2 separate regions of the Homo sapiens genome follow, and region 1 is linked to region 2. The links come from fine-mapping of genetic effects on gene expression. Tissue or cell type: subcutaneous fat. Region 2 holds a variant in brackets; the other region holds the start of a gene. All regions are shown on one strand. Distances are between the middles of the regions.

Region 1 (2,641 bases), 22 kb after region 2:
TAATTTTCTTTTGAAGATTATTCTAGGTGGTGGGCGTCACAGGGTCAATAAAACTATACATTTCTCTCAAAGACTGCAATCCTGATGGCAAAGCTGGAGGAAGCTCCGGGAAACCTGTAATTGTGGGAATCCAAGACAAAAAATCCCCCACAGCTGGGCTGTGGGAAGGGGCCCTACCTAGGAGAAGAAATCAAATCCCCTACAGCTGGGCTGTGCGAAGGGGCACTACCTAGGAGAAGAAATCCCCTACAGCTGGGCTGTGGGAAGGAGCCCTACCTAGGAGAAATCCCCTACAGCTGACAGGTGGGCTGTGGGAAGGGGCCCTACCTAGGAGAAGAAATCAAATCCCCTACAGCTGGGCTGTGCGAAGGGGCACTACCTAGGAGAAGAAATCCCCCACAGCTGGGCTGTGGGAAGGAGCCCTACCTAGGAGAAATCCCCTACAGCTGACAGGTGGGCTGTGGGAAGGGGCCCTACCTAGGAGAAGAAATCAAATCCCTACAGCTGGGCTGTGCGAAGGGGCCCTACCTAGGAGAAGAAATCCCCTACAGCTGGGCTGTGGGAAGGGGCCCTACCTAGGACAAATCCTCTACAGCTGAGAGCTGGGCTGTGGGAAGGGGCCCTGGACAGACCGCTGGGCGCTGCTGCAGGAATCCCCAAACCCAGGCACTGGCTGCAGGGAAAAATCAAGCGGGTGACTGGCGGGGGGGGGGGGGGGGGGTGCAGCGTGGGGCTGGGGGACAGGGAGTGCGGGGGGCGGAGGCTGGGCAGGGGTAGTGCCAACGGACACCTCATGGTGTGGTAGCCTAAACTCAGAGCCTAAACGCAGGACCAGGGCTAGGAGCCCAGGACCAGAAGGCAAAACTTCCTACCTGATTTATGGATGGGAACTTGCAGCCCCTGGAGGGGAATGGCTTCGGTCTGGAGCTCTACGCACTAGTTCTCTGGGAGGACAGAGGGCAGGAAAGGGGTGCAGCCAAAATCAAACTCGGTTCCACTTGGACGAGCAGTGGGGAGATTCGCTGTCTAAACAACTAAGGAGAGTTTTTAAAACCACTTACCAGAATCTAGAGTGGGAATTAAAATCTGCGTGGGCTTCTTCAGATTCCACAGAAATGAGGACTGCCACACCTTCTCCAACTTTTGCAGGCTCCACCCAGGATGTGCGCCTCGCTCCACCCAGGATGTGCGCCTCTCTCCACCCCTAGGCGAAGGCACTAGAATTTCCCAAATTAAGAACGAAGAGGAAGTTTGGACCTTTTCGGCCACCGCTCGCTTCAATATGGCTGCCCCCAGGGAGAGACGAGGCTACCATGAAGGAGCCGAGCGCAGACCCTGAGTCCGTCACCCATGGATCGCAGCGCGGAGTTCAGGAAATGGAAGGCGCAATGTTTGAGCAAAGCGGACCTCAGCCGGAAGGGCAGTGTTGACGAGGATGTGGTAGAGCTTGTGCAGTTTCTGAACATGCGAGATCAGTTTTTCACCACCAGCTCCTGCGCTGGCCGCATCCTACTCCTTGACCGGGTGAGGCCCCTTTGCGCCTGTCCATCGCCTGCCTTCTAGTGCGAAACTTCAGGAGCCCTGTTCCCATCCAGTGACGACCGGATCCAGCATGTCTGTGTTTGCTCCTCTGAGGGGTGGTCTCTGTTTCTTTATATGTGAAATTTAGGGGATTAGATCAGTGCTTCTAAAAGTTTAACGTGGCTATTAATCAGCTGAGCATCTTTTAAAATACAGATCCCGATTCTTTAAGTGTAGGGTAGGGCCTGATACTGTGCATTTCTAACAAGTGCCCAAATGATGTTGAAACTGCTGACCTGGGAACTATCTTGTGTGGCAAAGTTTAGAAAATTTGATTTTATTATATGAATACTAAGGGAATCTAAAGACTTTGTAGCTTGCTAAGGTATTGAATGCCGGAATCCGCTCATCAACAGCTCTGGCAAATCATTGTTACTGCATGCTTGAACATCACCAGTGTTAAGGAGTTTACTGCCTCCTAGTGAGCCCCTCCATTATTACAACTCTAGTAGTTTTACGCAGAGAAAAGTACGATCGTATATAATTTAGGATGGTTAGACTTTTTTTTTTAACTTTATGATGGGTTTACAGGGGTAGTAAATGCATTTTGACTTACATTTTCCACTTATGACGGATTTATTGGGATGTAACCCCATCATAAATCAAGAAGCAGCTGTACAAGCCATACCTCCTTATTTGCAGGTTCAGTTACCCCAGTCAACAGCAGTCTGAAAATATTAAATGAAAATTCCAGAAATAAACAATTAGTAAGTTTTAAATTGCATGCTGTTCTGAGTAGCGTGATAAAATCTTGAGCCAACCAGCTCCTTCCAGAATGGAAGGTGAATCATCCCTTTGTCCAGAATATTCCACTATATATTCTTGCTGCCCTTTAGCTGCTTGGTAGCCTTCTGGGTTATCAGATCGACTGTGGTGGTATCACAGTGCTTGTGTTCAAGTAACTCTTATTTTACTTAATAATGGCCCCAAAGTACGGGAGTAATGATGCTGGCGATTTGGATCTGCCAACAGTAAGTTTTAAAGTGCTTTTTTGAAGTGAAAAGGTGAAAGTTCTTAAGGAAAGACTTAAGGAAAGAAAAAACAGCATATGCTGAGGTTG
Region 2 (2,500 bases):
GTTAAAAACATATTAAAAAACCACGCAAGTCTCCAAGGAACAAAGTTTGACTTTTGTAAAACAGTGGAAAATTTTACCTTAATTTTATCAATGTAATTCACTTCTCTGTGATTGAACACTTCATGGGCTCCATTTTGCAAAACAATCTTTTGTCCTTCCTCAGTACCAGCAGTGCCCAAAATCTTTAAGCCATAAGCTCTAGCAATTTGGCATGCTGCTAATCCAACCTGAAAAACAAATATAACCCAAGAGTTATATATTCTCTACACTCCTGTAAACACTTAAATACATACAATGAACTTAAGATTCCTATAGGACCCACCCTAACTTTAAGGAACTTAAGAGTGTAAATGAAGAAATAAGAAAAACAGCTAACTTTAATTGAGCATTTAAAATATTCCAGGAACCATACTAAATAATTTCTACATATTGTTTTATTCTATCCTCACAATGACCCTATAAAGTAGATACTATTATTGTCCCTATTGTACAGATAAGAAAGTTGAAGCTTCAAATTATAAGTAATTTGGCCAAGTCATATGCGGAGATGGAAACAGGAGTTAGACCAGTCTGACTGCAGAACTTGAGTTTTTAACCACTGCATCAAGATGTTTGCAGGGTTTAAAGATGATCAGAACATGCTCTCTGACTTCTTTGTGCATATGAAATTCTAAATAACAAATGTAAGGCCTCCACCATTTAAGTAGAAGAGATAGGTATATGGGCAAATTAACTAATTCATCCATATGGTGAATGTTTATAGAGTGTTTACGATGTGCTAGACATGGTACTTAATGTAAGAAATAAACTTATATTCTAAGGGTGGAGGAAGATAATAGTCATATGAATGAATAAAATAAATTCAGGAAATAAAAGTGCTAAGAAAAAATAAGACTGGCTGTTGGGTTAAAGAGACAGGAATAGGGGCTATTTAGGTCATCAGGAAGAGCCACTCTGAAAAAATGAGACCTGAAAAAAGTGAGGAACAAGCCACGAGAACATCCGGTCAGCCACGTGGAGGATGCTGTGGGCATAGTGAATGG[C/T]CATGGCTAACCTGGCGAGGTGGGAATGCAGTTGGGGTCAAAGAACAGAAAGAGGGGCAGTGTGTCTCAGGGAGGGGCGTGTACGAAAGGGTCGAAGATGAGGCCAGAAAGGCCAAGTCACACAGAATCTGAGGGGTGAGGGTAGAGGCTTCCGAGTATATTAAAACCTGTGCAGAACCACGGGAGAGCTTAAGCCAGGAAATGATCTGGTTGACTCAGGCTTTAAAAAGGTTGCTCCAATTACATGTGAGGCACAAAGAAAGCGGTGAGGAAAATGGGAGGAGGAAGATCAGTTTGTAGCTGTTAGAACAGTCTAGATAAGAGATGAAGCTGGCTTGAACAAAGGTGGTGGCACTGGAAAAAATAAACAAATTCAGATATAGTTTAGAGGTAAGCTAATGGGACTTCCTCACAGATTGAATGCGGGAGATGAGGAAAAGAGAAAAATACAGGCTGTCTCCTATGTCTTTGGCCAGATTAACTGGGTAGAGTGAGAAGACTGGAGAACACTAAGTTTGTGAAAATCTCCAGATTTCACTTTGCCAAGTGTGGTGGCGCATGCCTGTAATCCCAGCTATGTGGGAGGCTGAGGCAGGAGGATCGCTTGGGCCCAGGAATTTGAGGAGTTTGGGATTGCAGTGATCATGCCACTGCACTCCAGTCTGGGCAACGGAGCAAGACCCTGTCTCTAAAAAATAAAAATAAAAGAATCACTTGTAACATGCTGAGCTGCACAGTGCTCATCTACTTACGGGCGAAGATGTTCAGCAATCAGTTGAATATGAGTATGGACTCAAAAGGGTTCAACTGGAGATATATATTAGAGATTCATTATCTTACGGATGGTATTTAAAGCCAAAGGATTAGGTGGAACATGGTGGCTCATGCCTGTAATCCCAGCACTTTGGGAGGCTGAGGTGAGTGGATCACCTGGGGTCAGGAATTCGATACCAGCCTGGGCAACCTGGCAAAATCCCAGCCTCCCAAAATGCTGGGATTGTAAGAAATCACTAGAATACCAGATAAATGTGCTTAGTATAAAAGAGAAATCAAAGTAATTTAAGAATATAGACAAAAGAGCAATTACTTAAATAACAATACTAGGAAATATATCTGATTAGATGACAAATGATGGTACAAATAAGTGTCACATACATTTAGAGCAGAGTTTCCCAAACTTGGCACTATCAACATTTTGGGCCAGATAATTATTTGCTGTGGGAGACTATCCCATGTATTGAAGGATATCTACTCTCTAGATGCCAGAACCCCTTCCCCAAGTTGTGACAACCAAATATGTCTTCAGACATTGCCAAATGTCCCAGAGCGGAAGGAGAAATGATGCAAAATCACCCGCTACTCATAACCAGTGATTTACAGGGAGGACCGGGTTCGGCAAGAAAAGAATTAAGATGAAAAATAATGATAGAAACAGATTAAAGCTGTAACAGACTTCC

What was found. PIP is the estimated chance that this variant, and not a neighbour inherited with it, causes the effect.
Region 1: CRYZ starts here. The variant in region 2 is fine-mapped to the expression of CRYZ in subcutaneous fat (GTEx, PIP above 0.99). The same link has a PIP of 0.9 or more in caudate, fibroblasts, lymphoblastoid cells, skeletal muscle and whole blood.

The regions. Positions count from the first base shown.
Region 1 is chr1:74,731,895-74,734,535 of GRCh38, forward strand. It overlaps CRYZ (crystallin zeta), which reads right to left and starts at 1,156. Exons shown (of 9, transcript NM_001889.4): 1 at 1,062-1,156. It overlaps TYW3 (tRNA-yW synthesizing protein 3 homolog), which reads left to right and starts at 1,258. Exons shown (of 6, transcript NM_138467.3): 1 at 1,258-1,524. The coding sequence starts at 1,351. RefSeq lists enhancers at 1-242, 838-1,548, 1,103-1,392, 1,773-1,872.
Region 2 is chr1:74,710,021-74,712,520 of GRCh38, forward strand. It overlaps CRYZ (crystallin zeta), which reads right to left. Exons shown (of 9, transcript NM_001889.4): 6 at 78-227. Among named protein-coding and RNA genes, the nearest start is that of CRYZ, 22 kb to the right of the region's middle. The variant C/T (reference allele first, on the strand shown) is at 1,044.